Linked DNA regions of Homo sapiens: regions 1, 3, 4 and 5 are each linked to region 2. The links come from fine-mapping of genetic effects on gene expression. A gene starts in region 2. Each other region holds a variant in brackets. All regions are shown on one strand. Distances are from middle to middle.

Evidence for each region. PIP is the estimated chance that this variant, and not a neighbour inherited with it, causes the effect.
Region 1: its variant is fine-mapped to the expression of SNHG15 in NK cells (Gilchrist 2021, PIP 0.90).
Region 3: its variant is fine-mapped to the expression of SNHG15 in monocytes (TOPMed, PIP above 0.99).
Region 4: its variant is fine-mapped to the expression of SNHG15 in whole blood (TOPMed, PIP above 0.99).
Region 5: its variant is fine-mapped to the expression of SNHG15 in fibroblasts (GTEx, PIP 0.94).

The regions. Positions count from the first base shown.
Region 1 is chr7:45,016,123-45,021,226 of GRCh38, reverse strand. The region is part of intron 1 of CCM2 (CCM2 scaffold protein); the gene reads right to left. Among named protein-coding and RNA genes, the nearest start is that of CCM2, 18 kb to the right of the region's middle. The variant AG/G (reference allele first, on the strand shown) is at 2,167.
Region 2 is chr7:44,984,009-44,989,112 of GRCh38, reverse strand. SNHG15 (small nucleolar RNA host gene 15) reads left to right here and starts at 2,417. Exons shown (of 3, transcript NR_152597.1): 1 at 2,417-2,588; 2 at 5,067-5,104. SNORA9 (small nucleolar RNA, H/ACA box 9) reads left to right here and starts at 3,603; the gene lies at 3,603-3,735. RefSeq lists enhancers at 1,824-2,571, 2,607-2,726, 2,572-3,318 and a silencer at 3,845-4,025.
Region 3 is chr7:45,112,424-45,117,527 of GRCh38, reverse strand. No RefSeq gene overlaps it. Among named protein-coding and RNA genes, the nearest start is that of TBRG4, 3.3 kb to the right of the region's middle. The variant A/C (reference allele first, on the strand shown) is at 2,015.
Region 4 is chr7:44,846,213-44,851,316 of GRCh38, reverse strand. It overlaps H2AZ2 (H2A.Z variant histone 2), which reads left to right and starts at 3,230. Exons shown (of 5, transcript NM_012412.5): 1 at 3,230-3,348. The coding sequence starts at 3,346. It overlaps H2AZ2-DT (H2AZ2 divergent transcript), which reads right to left and starts at 2,846. Exons shown (of 2, transcript NR_187581.1): 1 at 2,796-2,846; 2 at 1,752-1,858. RefSeq lists silencers at 2,895-2,954, 3,215-3,604 and enhancers at 2,531-3,089, 3,090-3,647. The variant G/CG (reference allele first, on the strand shown) is at 3,078.
Region 5 is chr7:45,171,808-45,176,911 of GRCh38, reverse strand. All of the region lies in intron 1 of RAMP3 (receptor activity modifying protein 3), which reads right to left. Among named protein-coding and RNA genes, the nearest start is that of RAMP3, 17 kb to the right of the region's middle. The variant G/A (reference allele first, on the strand shown) is at 3,057.

The sequences.
Region 1 (5,104 bases), 32 kb before region 2:
GCAGTGCAGTGGCACAATCATGGCTCACTGCATTCTCTAACTCCTAGGCTCAAGCCATCCTCCCACCTCAGCCTCATGAGTAGGCTGGGACTACAGGCATGTCGCCACACCTGGCTTTGGTGCAACAGCTTTAAATCCACCTGACCTCTGCCCTTCTGACACAGCACTCGATATTCTCGACCTCATGAGCACTAAGACCACCCTCAGACAGTGAGGGAGATTCAGGCAGGCAGTGACAGCTCCCCAGAAAGCTCTTTACACAGTGGGCACTAAGCAAGTGTTTGAAATAAATACCAAGGTAATAAGACTGTATTATTACTGCTAACACAGAAAAGCATACACAAACAGGAAAGCAACGTGAAAGACTAATAACAGTTGTTTCTAGTGGGTGTGATTTTTTTCATATAATATATTTTGCTACTTTCTTCTGAGATACAAATGTATTTTTTAGTAAGAAAACTTAACAAGTTCATTTTGGAAAATACTCAAAATTTTTAGCAAATACCACTTTCACCTAATAAAAACTGTTCTCTTGAGAGGTGGGTAAAGAAAAAAAGAATAAACCTTGGTTCTACCATACAAAACAATTTGTTAACATCTACTAAAATTACAAATGCACTTATGTTTCCCAGCAAGTGCATTTTCGGGAATTAATCCTACAGATGCATTACATACATGACAGGTTAGAAAATTAATTGCTTCATTATTTTTTAAGCAAAATGACAACCTAAAAGTCCATAGGAGGGCTGCTGTTTAAATACAGTAGCCCACAGATAAAAATGCCATTCCACCCTAAAGAAGAATAAAGAAACTATATATCTATAATGAAAGAGCTCCAAAACACACTGTCAAGAAAAAATAAACCCAAAGAAGTTCTTATTCCCTTAAGAGAGAAGTAGACTGTATCAAAATAACTTTCTCACAGACCGAGATTATGAACTCTAGATAAAATGTGAAAAACAATCTTCTAAAGACACTGGAGACAAACAAGAAATAAAAAAGAAGCTTGGAATTTATATGACCCTTGAAAGAAGGGAACATCACTGGGCAAGATCCACTTTTATATTGCTTTACTCCTGAGAGTATGCCCCAGTCTCAGAGGAGTGGAGCAGAGAAAAAAAAGCTGCAATTTTATTGGCCTGACAGGTTAAAGGAGGATTTGAGACTGCTAAAGAAGCTGGAAATTGAGAGGGAAATATAGGAAAGGAGGAACCCACTAAAAAAGGAACCCAAAGTCTGAGTATAAGGTCCCCTCAAATCTTTGGCTGAACCCTGAACTGCGTAAGCGGAGGTGAGACTCCCACAAGCCCAGAAAGGACACGATAGCTTGAAGGTTGAAGGAGCAAGCTGATGGCTGGGTGCGGGAGCTCATGCCTATAATCCCAGCACTTTGGGCGGCCAAGGCAGGAAGATCACTTGAGTTCAGGAGTTTGAAACCAGCCTGGGCAACATAGTGAGACCCCATTTCTACAAAAATAAAAATTAGCCAGATAGTGCATGCCTGTAGTCCTACCTACTTGGGAGGCTAAGGTAGGAGAATTGCTTGAGCCCAGAAGTTTAAGGTCACAGTAAACTATGATCACACCATTGCACTCTAACCTGGGTAACAGAGCAAGATCCGTCTCAAAAAAAAAGCTGAGATTTTAGCTCTCCCTAGCTGCAGGGTAGATAAGAGTTTGGAGTCCAAGTCCTGCCAAGTTAAAGGGGCTTAATCAGTACCTTAAACACTTGAGACTATCCATTTGAAACCCCACAAAGGCCACATCTTAGGAGTAAAACATACATTCCAGGACTAAGAAATTTACCCTAAGAGTAAGGACAAAGATCAAAACTGATCTACCAAACCAAAGTATAAAACCCAGCCAGGTGCGGTGGCTCATTCCTGTAATCCCAGGAGGCGGAAGCAGGAGGATGGCTTGAGGCCAGGAGTTCAAGACCAGCCTGAGCAACATACTGAGATTCCATCTATATTTAAAAAACTTTTTTCATTAGCCGGGCACAGTGGTGCATGCCTGTAGTCCCGGCTACTCAGGAGGCTGAGGCAGGAGAATCACTTGAACCCGGGAGGCGGAGGTTGCAAGGTTGCAGTGAGCCGAGATCACGCCACAGCACTCCAGCCTGGCCAACAGAGTGAGACCCTGTCTCAAAAAAAAAAAAAAAAAAAAA[AG/G]GCCAGGCGCAGTGGCTCACGCCTATAATCCCAACACTTTGGGAGGCCGAGGCAGGCAGATCATCTGAGGTCAGGAGTTCGAGACCAGCCTGGTCAACATGGCAAAACCACATTTCTATTAAAAATACAAAAATTAGCCTGGCATGGTGGTGCATGCCTGTAATCCCAGCTACTTGGGAGGCTGATGCAGGAGAATCACTTGAATCTGGGAGGCAGAGGTTGCAGTAAGCTGAGATTGCGCTACTGCACTCCAGCCTGGCGACAGAGTAAGACTCCATCTCAAAAAAAAAAAAAAGAAATTCTTAAAACTGTCAAATAAAAGACATTCAGTACAACAAAAATGACAGGTAACTTCTCAAGAGAAAAAATGGATGCCAGAAGATAATGAGTCTTCATCTTTAAAATGCCAAAAGAAGCTGGGCATGGTGGCTCACGCCTTGGGAGGCTCAGGCAGGCAGATCACTGGAGGTCAGGAGTTGAAGACCAGCCCCATCAACATGGTGAAACCCCATCTCTGCTAAAAATACAAAAAAAAATTAGCTGGGCGTGGTGGTATGTGCCTATAATCACAGCTACCCAGGAGGCTAAGGCAAAAGAATCACTTGAACCCAGGAGGTGGAGGTTGCAGTGAGCAAGATCACGCCACTGCACTCCAGCCTGGGTGACAAAGCGAGACTCTATCTCAAAATAAATAAATAAATAAATAATAAAAAATGCTGAAAGAAAACAGTCAACCTAGAATTCTATATCCTGTAAAACAGAGGTCCCCAGCCCCCAGGCCACAGACTGGTCTGGGTCCGTGGCCTGTTAGGAGCCAGGCCGCACACAGCAGGAGGTGAGTGGAGGGCCAGCAAGCATTACCACCTGAGCCCCGCCTCCTGTGAGATCAGTGGCTGCATTAGATTCTCATAAGAGTACAAACCCTGAACTGTGTGTTGGAGGGATCTAGGTTACGCACTCCTTAGAGAATCTAATGCCTGATGATCTGATATGGAAGTTTCATCCCAAAACCTTTTCCCCACTTTGGTCTATGGAAAAACTGTCTGCCACGAAACCGGTCCCTGGTGTCAAAAAGGTTGGGGACTGCTGCTGTAAAACTATCCTTCAAAAATGAAGATGAAATGAAGGTATTTTCAGATAATAAAAGGTGAAACAATGTGTCAGACCTACACCATGAAAAATTCTAAGCAAGGTCTTCAGGCTAAGAACTAAAAATAAAATCCTAAGCACTCCAACTGACTGAACAAAGCCTGTTTTGGTTCCAGCCATGACAAGATGCCTTGGGACGCACCTCATTATATTCCCTCCCTTTTGTAGTTCAGGCACAACTGACCAGCATTAATGTTAAAATAGAGACCACAAAACTGACAGAATGGACTCTGTGGCAATAAAATACCAAATTACATGCGTTCATGAAGATCATGGGGAAAAAAAGACACCAAATTATAAACAAGACCTACGACCGTGCCAGGTAAGGATTCAGCCACACAGTCTGACTCTTCAAGATCAACTCTGTTCTAACTGCCACAGGGTTCTTCTTTTTCTCTAGCAGCCAAACAAGCACTGTCCTGGATAAGCAATAGGAAAACAACTGCAACTCACCACCAGATGCCAACTGACCTCCTGTTCCACAAGCCAAAACTATAGCTGTGACTGTATAAGAGACTGACTTCAGTAACTCTCTCCTGACAAGAAGACCACCAGCCACAGACTGGTTCTAGCCAGTTTATAGAGGCTGTGCACTTGAGTGCCCTGTCTCCTTGCTTCACCTTTTGAGGTATGGGGCCTGAATATAATGTTGTCTCCACCTCAAAGTGAACATGGAATGCAAAGAACATGCCTGTCTGGAAAAAATAACTGTCAGATACTACGCTTAGTACCTGGGTGATGAAATAATCTATACACCAAATCCCCATGACAGATGTTTACCTATATAACAAACCTGCACATGTACCCCTGAACCTAAAAGTTCTTTTAAAAATGAATGTTTGGGCCAGATGCAGTGGCTCACGCCTGTAATCTCAGCACTTTGGGAGGCCGAGGCAGGTGGATCACGAGGTCAGGAGATCGAGACCATCCTGGCTAACATGGTGAAACCCTGTCGCTCCTAAAAATACAAAAAAAATTAGCCAAGCGAGGTGGCTCACGCCTGTAATCCTAGCACTTTGGAAGGCCGAGACAGTCAGATCACTTGAGGCCAGGAGTTAGAGATCAGCCTGGTCAACATGGTGAAACCCTGTCTCTACCAAAAATACAAAAATTAGCCAGGCGTGGTGGTAGGCGCCTGTAATCCCAGCTACTTGGGAGGCTGAGGCAGGAGAATCGCTTGAACCTGGGAGGCGGAGGTTGCAGTGAGCCAGGATCGCGCCACTGCACTCCAGCCTGGGCAACAGAGCAAGACTCCATCTCAAAAAAAAAAGATGCATGTTTGGGCCAGGCACAGTGGCTCATGCCTGTAATCCAGCACTTTGGGAGGCTGAGGCGGGTGGATCACCTGAGGTCAGGAGTTCAAGACCAGCCTGACCAATATAATGAAACCCCGTCTCTACTAAAAATACAAAAATTAGCCAGGCCTGGTGGCATGCGCCAGTAATCCCAGCTACTCAGGAGGCTGAGACAGGAGAATCGCTTGAACCCGGGAGGCAGAGGTTGCAGTGAGCCAAGATCGCGCCATTGCACTCCAGCCTGGGCAACAAGAGTGAAACTGTCTCAAAAAAAATAAATAAAATAAAATAAATTGCATGTCTGTTCAGTACACATGCATCAGGACCCCCTCCATGAATATTCATAACTCCTCCTATAACCTGTTGAATATGTATATACTTGGTCAGCACAAACCCATTCAGCACAAATTCCTGTTCCAACCCCTCCTCCTCTGAAGTGCCTACCTTTCAGGCTCTGCCAAAGGCTACGCTTCCCAGCCTGTGGGATGGCCAG
Region 2 (5,104 bases):
ATGCAGCTAGAGGCTACAGGATTCTGACCCTCCCCAAATTGCTCCCGGGAATAACATCACTGAAGTCTAAGATCAGTGCTTGAGATATTTTGCAGACCTCGCACTGGATGGATCAGCTGGCACCACCCAGATCGATAAACTGGCTCATCAGATCTTGTGGCCCCCACCCAGGAACTGACTCAAGCACAAGACAGCTTCAATTCCCTATGATTTCATCTCTGACCCGATCAATCAGCACTCCTGACTCACTGGATGCCACCCACCCTCCAAATTATCCTTAAAAACTGTGACCTCCAAATGCTTGGGGAGACTCATTTGAGTAATAAAAAAAGTCCCAGTTTCCCACACAGCTGGCTCTGCATGAATTATTCTTTCTCTATTGCAATTCACCTGTCTTGATAAATTGGTTCTGCCTAGGCAGCAGGCAAGGTGAACCTGTTGGGCCATTACAATCTCATAGCAGTGGCAGAATGGACAGACCAGTGAACCCTGTGCTAGGACAACCTGCACCAGGCCCTGGCTGTTGTAGGAGGTCCTTTTTTTTTTTTTTTTTTTTGAGATGGAGTTTCACTCTTGTTGTCCAGGCTAGAGTGCAATGGCGCGATCTCGGCTCACCGCAACCTCCGCCCCCTGGGTTCAAGCAATTCTCCTGCCTCAGCCTCCCAAGTAGCTGGGATTACAGGCAGGCACCACCACGCCCGGCTCATTTTGTATTTTTAGTAGAGACCGGGTTTCTCCATGTCAGTCAGGCTAGCCCCAAATTCCTGACCTCAGGTGATCCACCCGCCTCCCCGCCTCGGCCTCCCAAAGTGCTGGGATGACAGGCATAAGCCACCGCGCCCAGCCTGTTGTAGGAGGTCTTGAACAAACCACTTAACTTGTTTGGGTGGGGCTTAGTTTCCACGTTAGTAATCTGGAAGTAACAGTTCTGCCTTATCTGTCTGTTAGGGTTTTGACACTTAGTGAAGTATGGGATTTGTATACTGTAAAGTGATTGAATGTATTTACTAGGTGCAATACATAAAATACGAGTTTCAAGCACTGCTCTGCTTTTACTTATAGAACCACGTTCTCACTTTTCTAGCCTGATCATTCAAGACCCTTGAACACATCGTCCTTATCTCCCGCTCCTCATTGAGACCCTTCCAGAACACTACAAACTTGTAATACTTAGCTGTATCACCAGCAAACCATGTCCTTCCCAATTTCAGGACCTTTCAATGTGCTTTCCTCTGCCTGGGGGTGGGTGGGGGGTGGAGAGTAGTTTCCTCCCAACCCATGAAACCTCTCCACAAAGGTAGAAGAGACAGAAAACCATTACTGAATAAGTATTAAACCAGATTGTGATGCCGTACATCACATGCAACCTGCTAAAGGCAACACAAAGACAGAAACTCACTTTTTCTATGCAGCTAAGTAGAGATAGCCCATCACATTATGTAGGTTTTGCAATTTGGAGTCAGGTGCCAAGTTAAGCCTTTGTCCTCCTAAGAAGCTGGACTCTTGGCCCTTTCGTCCCTTAACAATTGCATTTTTTTCTTTCTTTGTTTTTGAGACAGAGTCTCGCTCTGTCTCCAGGCTGGAGTGCAGTGGTGCTATGTCGGCTCACTGCAACCTCCGCCTCCCGGGTTCAAGCGATTCTCCTGCCTCAGCCTCCCGAGTAGCTGGTACTACAGGCACGCTTCACCATGCCCAGCTAATTTTTGTATTTTTAGTAGGGACAGAGTTTCACCATGTTGGCCAGGATGGTCTCGATCTCTTGATCTTGTGATCCGCCCGCCTCAGCCTCCCAAAGTGCTGGGATTGCAGGCGTGAGCCACCGCACCCAGCCAACAATTACACTTCAAGGAGATGGCTCCCAAGAAACATTCCTGAGTTGAACCTGGCCATATAAGAAAAAGACTTGAGTACATTTGGAAAGGAGAGAGGCTGAAATTTTGAAAGAAAAAGGGAGGGGGATGGTTTCTCGTCCCTTCTTTTCCTCAGGGAAAATTAAACCCTATGTATAATTTGTATTTGCCCTTCCACCTGCATCACCTTTCCCACATGCTCCCACAGGCAGGCTCCTGTTCATTCCCAAGGCTCCGTGTCCACATCGTGCTTGGATTCCGCCCGGCCCCGCCTGTGCGGCCGCACCAGGAAGGCACCACCCATTAGGGGCTCAGCGCGTCCCTCCAGGCCACGCCGTCAGGCCTCCGTCCTTTTAGCTGTAGGGGCAGATTACGTAACTCCAGCCTTCTGGTCACTAAAGGAGGGTAACAAAGGGCGGTCGAGAGACTCCACTGAGTTGACACGCAGACGCAGCCTCAGGACCCTAAACTCTACGCCCCAGCACACCCTACCAAGCGAGCGCCCGCGGCCGCGTGACGTCATCTACCCCAAACGCTGTGGCCCCGGCCACGCACGGCTTCGGGGCGGGACTACGCGGTGACGTCGAGGTGCGCGGCGCAGCGCGCGGCGTCAGTCTTGGCTGGCAGACCTGTACTCCGTACTCCGTACTTCGTAGTCGCAGCGGCGCGGTCTTCGGCAGTCTAGTCATCCACCGCCATCCTGGGCCCCACGTGTTGCCTGACCATTCCTGAGCCCAGGTAGGGGTCCTGGGGGATTGGGTTCAGTGGCGGGCGGCGTGGGAGGCTGGGCCGCAGTGAGTGGGGGCACCAGTGATTCTTGGAGACCAAGCCTTCACTACACGTGCTACTTCCTCTCAAGAGGCGGTTGAGCGCGTTCGGAACATTTTACCCGGAGGAGACTCGGGGATTACTTGATGAGTAACCTCGTGCTTCTCTTTCAGCCGAGAAGTGGGGCTTCTGCATGACCTGGGTGGACCCCAGTAGGTGGGATGGGACGTGTGGTCAGGAGGGACCTCACCGGAAGGCATGGGGTGGCGTGTAGACCTGCCGCAAGAGAGGCTGTAGAGTGGGCCAGGCGTTGCAAGGAGCTAGAGCTGGATAATGGTTCAGAGGCACAAGCTGAAGCTAACTGCGTTTGGAGCTAACTGCATTTGTTCCCTTCTAGGTGGGAGCCGTGGCTGAGGTGACGGTCTCAAAGTGGAAGAGCTTACTGTCACAGCAACTCCTTTGCAAGATGCCCCGGTAAATCACGTTGCAGAGACCCCAACTCTGCCTTCCTGGAACTAGGCCTGCGTTTTCTCTGAACCATTATTTCATGGGGAAAATGAAATCTACTTCATGTGCCTGGTCTACTTACTCCTTCAGAAGTGATTTCTGAGCCGTAAGATACATGAGAAAAAAATGAAGGGGAAAAGGCAGTATTTATATTAACTACATGATGATAAGGATGTTTCTGGTCACAGTGAAAAGCCATGCTAGAATTGTAGTGTCATAGAATAATGTGGAAGTTTAGTTCGTGTTGTCTGATCTATTTAATAATTTAATAAGGTTATCTCTTCCAAGACACCTTCCCTTCTTCCTCAGCCAGAAAGGATCTTTCCCTGAGAGTCATTAGTAGCTCTGGGCTCCTGGAACCAAGCTCAGGTGCCTAATTGAACTCTGGTCTCTTCCCACAGCCCCCAGCAGGGACTGGTGCTTAGTGAGAGTGGACTGCCAGATTCCTTGAGTGTGGGGGATTTGGGTGAATGAGGGTAGCAAGCCTCCAGCGTGCTTGGGTCTGCGGTGACCCTATGCATTCCTTCAGTGCTTGCTAGAACAGTTTTGAAACGGTTTGAGGCCTTGCCCTGCTCCATCCAGAGCAAGGTTATAGAAATTTCAGACAATGACTTCCTCCCTCCTGGATCTAGTGTCCTGGGCCTTGTATAGATCCGTGCCATCTAATGTGGTAGCCACTTGGCACACATGATTAAATTAAATTTGGAGTTTTATTTCATTTTCACACTAGCCACATTTCAGATGATCAGTAGCCACAGGTGGCCAGTGGCTACCATATTGGACCGCACAGATTAGAGGGCATTTCTGTCGCTGTGGAAGTTGTTTTGGACAATGCTGGTGTGAAAGGTGAAGGGAATCCTGAGTGTTTGCTGTGCTCCAGGCTCAGTACAAATTTTATTTTATTATACACTTAAAGCAAAAGTCTTATAAAAGTTGAGGATGAAGCCAAGAGTGGTGGTAAGGGTAGGAGTTGAAACAGTGAAGAGGAATAACAGGGAAGAGTCCTGCCCTGAGAGACTCATGGAATAGGATATTTACAAGGCAAAGCAAAGAGAACCAAAGTCTCAGTTCTGCAGAGGAGCTGAGTGCCCCAGGAGCTAGTGGAGGGTGAGGTCAATGTGTGCTCATCTTAAAGGAAAAACTCATGGAAGAGGAAGGTGCTAATGTTGAACACCTATTTTGCGCCAGACCTCTTAATTGTTTTAAATCTTTGAGGTATCATCATGAGGTCGTTTTTAAGTTCAGTACAGATGAGGGGCCCAAGGTCAGAATTATGTGTCCAGGGTTGCCCAGCCACAAACCAGCAGATCAGGGTTTGATGCCAGGCCTCTCTAACCCTGCATCCTGAGTGGAATATAGAAGCCGGTGGGAAGTTTGGATGGGAAGGAGATGGATGCCTTCAAGTTCTTGTCTTGGTGTTAGGTGTGTTAAAGGACTGGCTGGGATGAGAAGAGTGTTGCTGGCTTGAGCATAGCACGAGCAGCACAGCTCCTGTGTTCCTCTGGGTGGTGGGGTCACCTCTCTTAAAGGTAGAGGCTTTCAGCTGATTCTGTCTTTTCAGGCCAGGAATAGTTGCTGAACACCCCAGGCCTGCTGAGGTCCCTCCTTGAGTCTCATGTTCAAGCAGTCTTGTGAGTAAAGCACTGGCTACCCCTTTTCACTTACTATCTTTTCAAGCATGTTCTACCACCTTGGAAGGTAAGAGGTTAGTACCTTCTTCCAGAGCAGAGGGCAGGCATTCTTGCTGTGCGTTGTGAAAGGGTAGAGTCCTGCGCTCCTTTCTTGTAGTAGTCCAATGGCTCATGCAGGTGCCTCTGACTCCCCTATGGGAACTGGGGCTTGGGAGGGTGGTGGAAAATGCTGATGCTCTGGCTATTGCTATTGTTTTGAATAATCAGTGGTCCCTTGTCCCTAATCGAGGAATTTTGTATTTTCTACCAGTGTCCATGAAACTGGGAGGCGACCGTGTTAGCTGCCAG
Region 3 (5,104 bases), 130 kb before region 2:
TGGATTTCTGGAAGGGTTGGCAGAGGTCAGGACTGTTGGCCCTGCTGAGGGTTTCCTGCTGGGGGTGCAAAAGACCCACCACTCTGAGTCCAGCTGGGACAGAGCCCCGGGCAGGCACAGAAGCAGGGGGAGGCCTGGGGCTGGTGGCAGAAGACCTGGACACTCACTCTCCATGTGTCCTTAGGCAAGTCCTGCCCTCCCTGGGCCTCAGTTTGCCACATAGATAGCAGGGTAGAACAGGCTGTGTATGGCCAGAGCAGGGAGCCAGGCTGACCTTAGACTAGCCTTTGGGTCTGATTCCTCCTCTTATGCAGGAATCTGAAGAGACATCGATTCCATCAGGCCCTGAAGAAGGGCCCTTCTCTGAGAAAGTCCCTCAACAGGTTTGTCAGGGGTCCCCAAGACCACCCCAAGGTTCTGTGACTCTCCAGAGGAACTCACAGGACTCAGTACACAGTCATACCCTTGGCTAAGACTTAAAGAAAAGGATACAGAGCAAAATCTGCAAAGGGGAAAGGTACATGAGGTGAAGTTGGAAGAAACCAGGCATGAGCTTCCAAGAGTTCTCTTCCAGCAGAAACAAGAGGGAGTCACTACTGGATTCCCTCAACAATTAGTTGTGATGACACGTGTACAATGCTGTCTACCAGGGAAGCTCATAGAGACTTGGTGCTCAGGGTTTTTATCAGGAGCTGGTGTCTGCCTAGCATACACCAAAATTCCAAACTCCCAGAAGAAAGGCAGGTGCTTAGCATGAGCCATGTTGTTGTACAAACAGTTTAGGTGCAGGGAAGACCCCTGCCCTTTATAGGAAGTTATTATCAGTATAAGAAACTGTTTGCCAGCCAAGTTTCCAGATGCCAGTCAGAAGGCAGCCTCAGGTGCTGTATCAGCTTCTGCACTCCAGAGCTCATATCAACTGTGGTTTGATTCCAACTGGAGGGAAGGTGAATAGACAGGAGCAGACAGAAACAGGGTGGTCAAGCATCCCAGTTTGCCTGGGACTTGAGGCGAGGAAGGGTAGGGGAGCTTCCCAAGACATGAGACTTTCTATGCTAAAACCAGCATGGCAAGTGGAGAAGTTTCAACATGTGTTTTGGAGGGGTCAAGTATTCAAACCACAACAGACGCTAACTACTTAGAGTTAGCACAGACCTCACAGGTTAAGGGCTCAGTCCCACAACACTGCCCTCACTTCAGGTGCCAGTCACAAGTAGTGGGTCCCAGACTATCCACACTTCTGTTTGACTTGGCTACAAAGCAAGGTTTCCCATGACCTGCTCTTCAGGTTTAGTAATTTGCTATAAGAGCTCACAGAAGTCAGAGAAACATTTTATCTACTGCCTTATTCCATCTGGGCTGCTGGAACAAAATACCATAGACTGAGTAATTTATAAACCCTAGAAATGTATTGCTCACAGTTCTGGAGATTGGGAAGTCCAAGATCAAGACACCAGCAGCTTCAGTGTCTGGTAAGGGCTCTCTCCCTCATAGAAGGTAACTTCTTACTGTGTCCTCACATGGCAGAAGGAGAAAGGGACAAACATGCTCCCTCGGGCCTCTTTTATAAGGGCACTAATTCCATTCACGAGGGCTCCATCCTCTTGACCTAATTACCTCCCAAAGGCCCCACCTCTTAATATCAACACTTTGCAGATTAGACTTGAACATACACATTTCGGAGGGACACAATCAGATCATAACATCTATGTTTACTAGTTTATTACAAAGCATATTTTAAAGGATACAGATGAACATCTAGATTAAAAGGGTCTTAGGGGCCAGGCACGGTGGCTCACACCTGTAATCCCAGCACTTTGGGAGGCCGAGGCGGGCGGATCACGAGATGAGGAGATCAAGACCATCCTGGCTACCACGGTGAAACCCTGTCTCTACTAAAAATACAAAAAATTAGCCGGGCATGGTGGCGTGTGCCTATAGTCCCAGCTACTCGGGAGGCTGAGGCAGGAGAACGGCATGAACCCAGGAAGCGGAGCTTGCAGTGAGCCGAGAT[A/C]GCGCCACTGCACTCCAGCCTGGGCGACAGAGCGAATCTCCATCTCAAAAAAAAAAAAAAAAAAAGTCTTAGGGCCAGGTTCCAAAGGAAACTGTTCCTCTAATCACAACACTTCTGGAAGAATCTCAAGCATCAGAGCTTCTGTTCCCATGGGGTTTGGGAGGTGACACCTTCCCAGCATGTGGATGCATTCACCAACTTGGAAGCTCTCTGAACCCCATTGTTTAATAAGTTTTTATGAAGTTTCATTACCTAGGTATAATTGATAAAATCATTGGCCATTAGTAATGACAGTCAAAAGAAATGTTTTTATATGAGGAATATGAGCTTCCTCTAAATTATCAGGCCCAAAAAAAGGCATGAGAAAGAGACAGCAGTCACATCTCACTTCCTCCCTCTTGCTGAATAATCATCTTTTGAAGCTGCTTGCTATGTGGACTCTAGACTGACTGCCCCCCAAGTAGCTATAAATTAACCTAACAATACTGCATGCTGCACAACATAACTCATACCCTATCATTCAACAATGTATAGCCATCACTAATCAATGTTATTTCTGTAAACCAATGAGAATTCCTGACAAACAACTTTTTATCTGCCCCATGCCTAGTCCCCTTTTTTACCTTTAAAAACCTGCTTGTAACAAAGGCTTAATGAAGCTCATATCCCAGGTTACTTGCATGTGAGTCTTCTGGGCAGCTGTCTTCATTTTGGTTCAAATGTAAACTCTCCACTTTTATTAATTTTGCCTCCGTTTCTTCTTTTAGATAAACTGTAATCAAATCAATCTCCAGCCTCTCTCCTCTCTCTGGAGGTTGAGAGGTGGGGCTAAAAGTTTCAGCCCTCTAATCACATGGTTGGTTTCTCTGATAACCAGCTCCCATCTTCCAAAAGCCACTTCATTAGTGGCATAAACTCAGGTATGGTTAAAAGGGGCTTATGATGAATAACAAAAGATGTCACTATCATTCAAGAAGTTACAAGTGTTTTACAAATGCCCATCAATGATAGCCTGGATAAAGAAAATGTGGTACATATACACCATGGACTACTATGCAACCATAAAAAGGAATGAGATCATGTCCTTTGCAGGGACACAGATGGCGCTGAAAGCCATTATCCTTGGCAAACTAACACAGGAACAGAAAACCAAACACTGCATGTTCTCACTTATAGGTGGGAGCTGAACAATGAGAACACATGGACACAGGGAGGGGTACAACACACACTGGGGTCTGTCCATGGGACAGGGGGAAGGGAGAGCACCAGGATAAGTAGCCAATGCATGCAGGGCTTAATACCTAGGTGATGAGTTGATAGGTGCAGCAAACCACCACGGCACACGTTTACCTATATAACAAACCTGCACGTCCTGCACATGTATCCTGGAACTTTAAATTAAATTAAAATACACATACACAAATGAAAAACATCAGGATAGCAATTAGCTGGGGTGGAGGGATAAGAAAGAAGAGGAAACTCTCAGAAAATTGCAACAATATTGGTAATATTCTATTTCTTAAGTGGAGTAATGGGTTCACGGGTTTCTTTTCATAATTCTGCTTTGTAACTTGAGCATATTTAAATTTATATATACACTATATATATTATGTATATGTAGCAAACATTTTATAAATACAAATGATATTATCTTTATAAAATGCCTTAATGAAAACCTAAAGAAAAAAGTTACAAGGGTTTTAGAAGCTCTATGCAGAGACCACATATATATTTCTTAAGTCACAGGTGGCTTTTAGTATACTCAGTGTTGTGCAACCATCCCTATTATCCAATTCCAGGACACTTTTACCATCTCAAAAAGAAACCTCAAACCCATCAGAAGTCACTCCCTATTCTCCCCACCTCAACATCACATAGGTGACTCTATCAATTCACCTACTCTGGACATTGCAAATATAAATGGAACTATACAATATGTGGCCTCATGTGTCTAACTTCTTTCCCTTAGCATGTTTTCAAGGTTCTTTCCTCAACAAAACTCCATTAGTTTGTCTAAAGCTTTTCTTTTAACAGATCTATAAATCTGTTGTAATATTGTCTTTTGACAGACAACTTGTGAAGGATTTGGAGTAGAATTTGTGATAAATACATGGAATCTTAATTAACTGTTAACAGAAAAATCAAACTCTGTAAATTACTTAAAGAGGTTTATTCAGGGCCAATGAGTGACCACAGCCCCAGGAAAATACAAACCCAAAAAGCCTTAAGTGTTCCCGAGGCAGTCAGATTATAGTTTGGTTTTATACATTTCAGGGAGCCAGGGGTTACAGGCAAAGACATAAATCAATGTGTGGAAGGTATACACTGGTTTGGCTCCAAAAGACAGGATGTCTTGATGTGGGGGGTTTACAAGTTATATGTGGACTCAAATACATAGATATATACACGATATATGATTGATTGATAGATAGATAGATAGATCTCTTGGTAGGGGTAGATAGGGTCTCCCTATGTTGCCCAGGCTAGTCTTGAACTCTTGGCCTCAAGTGATCCTCCCACCTCAGCCAGCTTGACCAAGAGATTTTTTAATTTGCAACTGGTTAAAAGAGTGAGGCTCTGTGTAAAATTTGGAGTCAGCAGAAAAGAATGTTTAAGATAGTATGCCAGAATCAGCCACAATACACTGGGTCAAAAAAGACCTCTTCAGCAAGATTGATGGTCTGCAAGCTTGACTTAACCCTTGCCTTGCACGGCCTTAGGTCTTGTTTATAATTTGGTATCTTACTACCACAAAGTCTGTTAGTCTTATGATCTCTACTTTAACAAGGGGTGTTCAACCTCCCTTTCCAGAATGGCTGGGAACTCAGTTTTTAAGGTTTCTCTGGGGTCTCCTTGGCTAAGAGGAGGTCCGTTCAGTGCTTGGGGGGCTTACAATTTTATTTTTAGTTTACAAACACAAACAAACGTAATTATTTATTTTTATGTTTTTTGTTTTGTTTTTTGCGACAGAGTCTTGCTCTGTCAACCAGGCTGAGTGCAGTGGCAAGATCGCTGCTCACTGCAACCTCCACCTCCCGGATTCAAGCGATTCTCATGCCTCAGCCTCCCTAGTAGCTGGGACTACAGGTG
Region 4 (5,104 bases), 140 kb after region 2:
GGTGAGAAAATGATTTTCCTGTTAAGGAAGGAAGTTAACATTTATTGGATATTATGTGCTAGGTACAGTGCTAGGTGCTTTCTCATACATTATTGGACACTTCTTTCAGCCCCCCTTCACAAGGGCAACTCTTCTTTTTTTTTTTTTTTTTGAGATGGAGTGGAGTCTTGCTCTGTCGCCCAGGCTGAAGTGCAGTGGCGCAATCTTAGCTCACTGCAGCCTCCGCTTCCCAGGCTCTCCTGGGCCCAGGTGATTTTCCTGCGTCAGCCTCCTGAGTAGCTGGGAATAACAGGCATGCGCCACCACGCCTGGCTAATTTTTGCATTTTTAGTAGAGACAGGGTTTTGCCATGTTGGCCAGGCTGGTCTCGAACTCCTGACCTCAGATGATCCACCCACCTTGGCCTCCCAAATTGCTGGGATTACAGGAGTGAGCCACCACGCCCAGCCTGCATGCTCTTTGTGGACCACCCACACCAGCTAAACTACATTCCCTGTTTCTCTCTTAAAGCACCCTGTTCTTTTCCTTCAGCACACTTGAACTTATTATAATTCACATATGGTATTTGTTTATTTCTTTAACATCTGACTCCCGCTGCAGAGGACCACAAGGGCAAGGACAATGTCTATTTTGCTAATCACCAAATCCTCAGTACCTAGCACAGTGCCTGCAAACAGTAGGCACTGAGTGATTTGTTAAAGGAATAACTCACAGGCTTATGCCTTGGTAGATTGGTAATGCCATCCACTGAGGCCAGAAACACAGAGGAGCAGGAATTAACAATGGCTATTTTTACTGAAGTAACTCCACTCTTCTACCTAGTTTTGAGGCTTCTATTAATCTGGGCACATTGCTCCATTCCTTCCTATTTCACTGGACACCCTTCCTCACACTTGTCTGTACCTTCATCCGTATTTTTCCAAATTCTTACTTAGAAGCTCACCCTCTTCCTCTTCTTGAATTTAAGTTACCTTTTTTTAAAGACTCACTTCCCCAAAGTTGCTTCTCCTGATTCAAACTTTGGAACAGCTATCATCAGCCTGGATATAAATTTCTAAAGTGCCAGCCTGGGAAAATCCTATGACAACAGAATCTCCACTAAGGCAGAAACTTGTTTTTTTCACTATTAACTCACCAACACCAAGAACACATTCTAGCACAGTCAATGCATCATACTGTGAAAAGAATGAAAGAATTTAAAGCTGGAATGAGTTGGAACAAATGTGAGCTGGTATCTTGGTTATCTACAGGCTATGCGGTCTCAGGCAAATGACTAAGTTCACCTAAGCCCATTTCTTCAGTTATGAAATGAAGCTGGCTCTCCCAGAAAGCTCATATTGTCCAGACTGTAATAGAGATGATCATGATAGGGTGATGGGCCTTTTTTAATTGTGGAAACAGGCCAGGCGCGGTGGCTCACGCCTGTAATCCCAGCACTTTAGGAGGCTGAGGCGAGAGGATCACTTGAGGTCAGGAGTTCAAGACCAGCCTGGCCAACATGGTGAAACCCTATTTCTACTAAAAATACAAAAACTAGCGGGGAATGGTGGTGGGAGCCTTTAGTCCCAGCTACCCAGGAGGCTGAGGCAGGAGAATCGCTTGAACTCAGGAGGCGGAGGTTGCAGTGAGCCCAGATCACACCACTGCACTCCATCCAGCCTGGGCAACAGAGTGAGACTTCATCTCAAAAAGTAAATAAATAAATAAATTGTGTTAACACTGTGGAAGAAAAACGATCGCTGGAGAGCCTGTGCACTCACATACATCCTTTAATTTTTACAACAGCTTCCGGGGGAAGGCGATTCCACTTTAGAGCTTTTCTTCCTTTCTAGCTGGGAGTTATCCTCCAAATTTTAACCTAATGATGTAAGCAAAATAAACACACTGAAGAGGTTGAGAAAAGAAAAACGGCTCACAACAGTCTGAGCTCTGTGAGGTCTGCAAAATGTATTAGGCCTAGAGGGACATGAGTATGGGACTTCGGTTATGCCCACCCTCTGCCCCCACATACACACATACCCAATCCCATGCATACCCAATTGTTTAAAGTCATTTCATTCCTGACTATCGGCCTCATCCATTACCTTTTTTTTTATTATTATTTTTTAGACAGGGTATATTCTGTCTCCCAAGCTGGAGTGCAGTGGTGCGATCATGACTCACTGCAGCCTCGACCTCCTGGGCTCAAGAGATCCTCCTGTCTCAGTCTTGACAGTAGGTGAGGCTACAGGTTCGCGCCACCAAGCCGGCCCCATTATCTTCGTGTTCTTAGAATTTGTAATACATGCCGGGCGCGGTGGCTCACGCCTGTAATCCCAGTACTTTGGGAGGCAAAGGGGGGCAGATCACCTGAGGTCAGGAGTTCGAGACCAGCCTGACCAACACGGAGAAACCCCGTCTCTATTAAAAATACAAAAGTTAGCTGGGCATTGGGGCGCGCGCCTGTAGTCCCAGGACTCCATCTCTAAAAAAGGAAAAAGAATTTGTCATACAAATAACAATATGTAGCCAATTGATAGCTTTTGTTTTTGTTTGTTTGTTTTGAGACGATGCGTCGCCCAGCTGGAGTGCAGTGGCGCGATCTCGGCTCACTGCAACCTCCGCCTCCGGGGTTCAAGCGATTCTCCCGCCTCAGCCTGCCGCGGACCTTGTCAGGGTCCGCGCTGAGAGGACGTCAGGGTAGTCAGTCCGCCAGAATACGGCTGAGCATGAGGCCTGCCTAACCTTGAAACCCAGCGCCCTCCTGATCCACACGTTCTAAGACGAATAAATCCTCACAGTCTGTGAAAACCCACCAGGAGAAGCACGTCCAACACTCTTTACCTCCCCAAACAAGTCTCAGAAGCGGGAAAACCAACGCCGCGAATGGGCGGGAAAGCCACAGCGCCTGCAATCGCTTCACCTTATTAGCTAATTTTGCTGTCCTTCCCAGTGGCCCGCCTCCCTTGCTCGCGGGCGATATTTTTATTGGCTTTCGTCTGCGAGGCGTCCAATCTCATTGGTTTGCCTTTCTGTTCGTCAGGCTTGGGCGCCTGGTGAAAGGCAGAGAGCGCGTCACTATTGGGGCTGGAGGCCCC[G/CG]CCTCCGCGTGCCGTGTGCAAAAACAAACAGCCGTTAGGAAGGCGGTGCCGGGGGGGCGGGGTCTGGCTAGAAGGAGGCGCGCGATTGAACAGCCGCTGGGGTTCGAACCAGCAAGACAAGCGGGCATTGGCCACAGCAGCGCGAGGCGGGCACGGGGTATTGTCCGGCTCCGGCGGCGGCGGTCGGTGCTGCGAGAGCGGCGGCGGCGGCGCGGGTCGGCAGCGGGAGGGCGCGCGGCCGAGCGGAGGCGGAGTCGGCGCCGAGAACATGGTAAGGGCGGCCGGGTGGGCCGGGGGCACGGGGCCTGGGAGAGCAGAGCGCGGAGGCCCTGGCGTCGGCGCCGCTACCTGTGGAGTCGGGAGTTTGCGGGTGTCTGGGCTTCGTCCGGCCGAGCCCCTCGCCGCCCGCCGGGGGGCGCCATGTCCCAGCTGCGGAGCCCGACACGGGTCCCCGGGTGAGAGCTGGGCCTGGCCGGGTAGAGCGCGAAGTCTGTTCCGAGCCGGATAGATCTGTCCCGACGCTTGTGACGCTGCACCGCCCGTCTTAGAAGGAGGAGGACGGCAGAATCCGGCTTGGAAATGTAGAAACAAGTGCTGGATCTTAATGTGATCGCTTCTCTGTATGAATGAGGTCAAACAGGCTGCCGCTGTACAAGTTAGATAAGTCTTTGGCGATGTTTGGTTACGTAATCTCCCTGGCAGTCAGTTTGAGGGTTTCTGCGAAAGGGTGCTTGTATTTGTGGTCTTTTGAGCGACAAAGAATGGTTTTATAGACCAGAACCACACGATTTGTTCTAGGTGATTGCACAGGTTAGAAATGAACGCCCGTTATCTTCTGAGCCCCTTGCAGTTTGCGGTTTTCATTATACAACAGTACTTTCCTTTGCCCTTGCTATGGATTTTCAGTCTTAAAGTATTCATCTTTTCATTCTGAAATTCAGATCTAGATAAGAAGAGTGTGGCTTTAAAAAAATGAAAGTGAATAGAACTTCAGCCCCATTTTAAAGTTGAGGGGAAAAGAGAAGGTGCTAAAGGATACGCTCTGAGTTGCATCAAAGATTGTGTAAAAATAATAAGACTGTTATGGAATCTTATTTTTGCCGGTATTCGTGCTTTAAGCATTCTGTTGAAAGGTTACTTCAACGGGAGCTACCTGCTTAAAAGTTAGCACCAAGCTGTCATTTATCATACTGCAGATAGTATTAGATGATTTGTCTTGTGCTTGATGTGACAGATATGGTATTGAATAGACATAACACCTAACTGTAAACAGATTGGCCAGTCGAGAGGACAATGTTTGGTTATTGTAAAATACCCAAATCTTAGAGCTGGAATAGACTTTAGGGATAATTGCTTCCAACGTCTAACGTATAGTTTATTGTTATTGTAAAAAACCCAAATCTTAGAGCTGGAATAGACTTTAGGGATAATTGCTTCCAACGTCTCACGTATAGTTTATTGTTATTGTAAAGTACTTTATAGTACTTTATCAAACTGAGGTACAGCTTACATCTAATCTGTAAAAGGATTTGCTCAAACAGATGATTTTCATGATTCTAGTTTTTTGTGGTTTTTTTTTTTTTTGGTTTTTTGTTGTTTGTTTTTTGTGGTTTTTTGTGGTTTTTTTTTTTGAGACGGAGTCTCACTCTGTTGCCAGGCTGGAGTGCAATGGGCGATCTTCACTCACTGCAACCTCCGCCTCCCGGGTTCAAGCGATGCTCCTGCCTCAGCCTCCCGAATAGCTACAGGCGTGCGCCACCACGCCCTGCTAATTTTTTGTATTTTTAGTAGAGATTGGGTTTCACCATGTTGGCCAGGATGGTCTCGATCTCTTGACCTTGTGATCCGCCCCCCTCGGCCTGACAAAGTGCTGGGATTACAGGCGTGAGCCACCGCGCACGGCCAATTCTAGTTTTTCAGATATTTTTCAATCTCTAGTGATACGCTATATGTTTTATATCCACTTACCAGTAGCTAAAAATACATAAGTATTAACATAAGCTAAAAATGCAGGAGACATTGAGTTG
Region 5 (5,104 bases), 190 kb before region 2:
TGGGGACCATCCCACTGCCTGCAGGGGCGGCAGAGGAGGGCTCCAGGCCAGTAAAGACCAACCCCTCCCGGTCAAAGACCCCCTCCAATTCTGGGAAACCAGGGGCTGAGGCCACTGCAGGGACTCATGTTCCCAGCAATGGGAATGAGTCCTTTGGACTTTCTCAGGGTCTGACACAAGCTGCTTGTCCCAGGATTTCCCCACTGCCCTTCCCAACCTCTGCCCACCAAAACATCCCCTCCCCTTCCTCCTCATGCCTTTGCTCCACACATTTCCCCATGGGGAACATCCTCCCTCCCACTGAGCAATGCCCCCTGTCCTTCAGGGCCTGTCTCCACGGTCATCCCATTTCCAGACGACAGGACCTCCCTGCTCCTAAACTTCCCTCACCTGACCTCTGCTTTGGTGCTCATCATATACTCAAGAGAGACCCCAGGCATATGTGTCTCGGGTGTGTGTGTGTGTGTGCACGCACAGCCCTGCTGTCTGTGTCTTGGTGTGTGTGTGTGTGTGTGTGTGTGTGTAGGTACACAGCCCTGCCATCTATATCTTAGTGCATATGTGTATGCATACATGAGCATGTGTGTACACAGCCCTGTCATCTGTGTTCCGGCGGCTGGTGCTGGGCTAGAGGAAATACCATGAAGAAGCAGATAAGAAAATGGTTCCAGATTGACATGGGACAGACCTGGCTCACACCCACACTTCACTGGTTACCAGCTCAACCTCAGTTTCCCCATCCGCAAGATGAGGGATACAGGCCCCACCTCACAAGGAGGTTGAGCTGGCTAACTTAGTCTGAAATGCTCAGTGCCACCTCCAGGAACGTATCATTCATTCATTCCCTCAATAAGTCTTGGCTGAATGATAGAGAAAGCAGTGAGCATTTCAGAGTCTGATCTTCTTCCATGTGTGGCTCACCCTGGGCACTGAGCAAGTGCTGAATAAGTCACTTTAATATGGAAATGGCAGGTTTAGACAGGACCACTTTCTGGTGCAGGGACCTGCTCCACCAGAACACAGCGCCCCAGACACTCCTCAAGAGTCATAGCCTGCTTAATGCTAACATTAGGGAAGACCCTGGAAGCCCCTTGGTTGAACAAGCGTCTGATGCCAGCAAAAGGGAGTGGCTTGTCTAAGGCCAAAGGAAGGCTGGAGGGGTCCAGATCCCAGGGTTAAGGGAACTGTCATGCTCAGCCCACCCCCACCTGCAGCAGAACACCTGGAGCACATACAGAGGACAGGTGTTAGCTGGAACCCCACAGAGGAGAACACAAAAGGGCTTGCCAGCTGTTCAGGGTCGTGGGTTCCCAGACTCAAGGCACCTTCTTCCCTTCGTGACTGCCCAAACCTATACCTCAGAATCCAGGCTGACAGCACTGAGAAGGGCCCCTGGGGGTCACAGCTGGTAAAGTTGGACAGAGGACTTGCAGGTCCCAGCAGGTGGTCTGAGAAGCCTGTGTAGGCACTCACATCTCCCCTTCTGTCCATGCAAGCTTCCCCAGGACCCAGGGCATCTTGAGGCCCCAGAGAACCCTGGAGATGGGAAGCACACAGGCTGTGGCTCAGTGGTCAGCCTGCTGCCATGTGTAAGCAGATGGCAAGGACACAGGCTGGGTGAAGTCACCACCATGGCCCCTGGACACAGGGTCAGTGACTGGCTCTCCCAGAACAGGTGTTTCAGGGCCTTCTGGCCACTCTGCATGGTTTCCAGCACCTGGAATGTCCCTGACCCCCACGTTCGCTTGTCTCATCAGCACAGCTGCAGGCCTGGATTCTCTGAAAGGCCACACATCCCACTTAGGGCCCCAACCCCTGAGTGAGCCTCTGGGGTGCTCACCTCTCTTCACAGAAAGGCCATGTGCTCATTCTGTGTCTGTCCCATCCCTGCATGTAGCACAGGTCCCCCACATGGTCCCACAGGGTCTGCACATGGAGATGGTGGCTCAGTACCCACTGTCAACCCAGTGAAATTTATCCAAAGATTTAGCAAAACATCCTGGACCACCGCTATCATGTGTTGCGGACTGTGTTGGATCCTTGGACAAGGGGAGAGGGAGAGGGTCTGGTTCCTGTCTTCAGGACCTGCCATCTGGGTTCCAGGGGGCAAGAGGAAGACACAGGGATCTCAGTCCAACTAGGGGAGTGACTGAAGATAGAGCATATAATAGATGGGGCAGAACCCAGGACAGAGTGTCAGGAAGTCTCACCAAGATGCACAGGCCATATAGGGGCTGCGCATACAGGCAGCCACAGTCAGAAGGAGACCTGAGCTCCGATGTCAGTGGCGGGAAGGGGACATGACCAGGGCTGCATCAGGACCACTGAAAGGGATGGTGCAGTGGCTATAGGGGGATAAAAAATGCACAGGCCCCATCGGGATCACCTAAGAGGACTTGAGCTGCCCGGGTAGCAGAAGGAGCGTGGAGCAAGATGGGTCCAGGTGCCCAAAGCAACATGGCTTCAGCAAATACCAGTCAATGGCCCAGAGATGGACCAAGAACAGCAGCCAGTGTGGGGACAGTGGCCAGCCGCACACATGAGGGCTTGCTGAGGCCATGGGAGTCAGGAGGTCCCTGAGGACCCAGCCTGTACTTTCCCTGGCCCTTAGGCCCCTGTCATCTGTCCCAGACATCACAGCAGACCCCAAGGGCACTATAACACCCACTACACAGATGGAGAGGCTGATGCCCAGAAAGGTTAAGTGTCTCCCAGGGTCACACAGCTTTGGGGTAGTCATCTGTGCATGCCGGGCCTGCTGTCTTCACCCACGGTACCCAAGACCCTCCTGGCTCACTCCTCCAGCCAAAGCACGGTGCTCCCCATCCTGTCTGCTCTCACTGGGCCTTGTCCATTTCCTCAGCTGGGAGTGCCCACTCCCATCTCCCTAGGAGGAAATCCACAGCCCCCACCAACACCCCCACCTCACCCCTCTCCTTGGCAACTGGGCCCCACTGCTCCCCTGCTGTCGAGGCTCTGCTATATGTGTCTGCCCTCCTCCCAGCTCAGGCCTGGTGTCAGGAGGTCCACAGCAGCATTTGCGCCATGAATGTGAG[G/A]ACCCCAGGATGGTAGCAGTTGAAGCAGTGTGAGCTGTGGGCAAAGCTGCTGACAGTCCCCAAGGGAAAGCAGGTGCCCTGGATGATCAGCCCTGCTCCTTGCAGTCCTCCCCACACTATCAGAAGTGGCAGAAGCCTACAGAGGCTACAGGGAAAGCTACAGCTTTCCCCAGTGGGCAGTCAGCTCCATGCTGGGGTTTCCTCCACTTCCCAAAGCCCATCAGGGCTCACTGGGCACTGGGAAACTTGGACGTAAAAACCACTGCCCACCACCTCCTGCTCAGCTGTCCACAGACACAGCTGGGACCTTCATAGGGAGAAGCCCACTTGGTCCCCACAGGCACCTCAAGGCATGTGTCCTTCCTTCCACAAAAGCAATATTAGAGAGGCCACATTTTTCACCCAAAATCCCAGTTTGTTAGCGGCAGCCTGGACAATAGCCCAGGGTCCTGACACCTGGGCACCACCCACAGCTTCTGATGGACACCGCTTGCAGCTATAGTGTGGATTTTGTAAAAGGCTTATACAAGCCTCACTATATCCTTGTAGAGAAGATAAGCGGACACACTTCCATGTCCAGTCATATGGCAGACGTCTGGACAAACTTTCTACTGAAAACAACTGAAAGCCTGGATAAAATATAAACCATACATTCATAAAATCATCAAGGAGCTGACAAGATGGCAAGAAATTATCAAGCTAAAGACTAGATGGAGTGGAACCCAGAGGGCCATGGATTTGTTGCCCTGGAGGCATCTTCCCAGCCTGGAAAACTGGGGGTGGATAAAGGCCAAGATGAGAAGTCTAATGAAAGGCCCCATAAACTGACATTCAGAGGTAGGTGAACCAGAAATAACTCTTCACCCTCGGCCAAGTAGGAGGAATGGGACCTGGCACTGAGCAGGGAGGGGGACCCCTCTCTGAGAAGTCATAAGCAAGGCTGACCTTCTTGTGGATTCACAGCCCAAATTCACATGACCTGGATGGACCCAGGGAAACCCCAAGTTTAAACTGATCATCATGGACAGGCCCCCGCAGGAGCAAATAAACCCAAACCCTCTCAGAAGGAGGCACCATCATTGCAGCCCTCAGAAAGCTGCCATAATTAACTTCCCAAGGAAAACAAGCAGCTCACAATCAAAAATCAACTAAGTATAACCTCAATAGAAAGACCCAACAAGGTGAAACCCTGTCTCTACTAAAAATACAAAAATTAGCCAGACAAGGAGGCGTGCACCTGTGGTCCCACCTACTCGGGAAGCTGAGGTATGAGAATCGCTTGAACCAAAGAGGCAGAGGTTGCAGTGAGCCAAGATCGTGCCACTGCACTCTAGCCTGGGTGACAAAGTGAGACTCTGTTGAAAGAAAAGAAAAGAAACTCAACAAGGGGGTACAGACTTCTGGGATGGTGGTATGAGAAGCTCATCCTAAGGGCACACATCAAATGAAGAAGGTTATTCAAGAAAATCTACCACATCTCGGGAAGAATAGTGAGAATCTGTGACATTTGAGCCACAACCTGTTCCCACTCCACACCCTACCTCTGGCTGTAGAGCCTGTACTCCAGTGGGTGCAACCACAAATGGAGGTTCTCTCTACCCCAGCTCCCAGTCCTGGGCTACAGTTTCACCCTGGGACAAGCAGGCATGTCCCTCCCAGCTCCAGGTTGCAGGAGGTCTCTTCTTTCTGGGCAGATGAGGCCTAGAGAACTGAGGCTCCCTGCCCCGCCCAGTCCCCACTTCTAAGGTGGAGGTTCTGCACCAGGCATGGCAGGCCAAGAGTACTGGGGCCCCAACCACCCCACCCCAGCTCACTGGTAGGGTGGAGGCTCCACAATGGGAGGAGCAAGCCAAAATCAGGAACTACAGTGTCCCTCATGGGTGCCTGCTTGTGGAGCAGAGATGTCATTCTGGTAGAAGCAGGCCATTGTCCTATCCCCCAGTCCAATACAGTGCCAGGTCCTGCCCAGGGGAAGAGGCAGGCTGTAAGAAGAGACAGATATTTCCATAGCTGTTGCAGAAGGGATTGACTATATTTGGAACAGAACA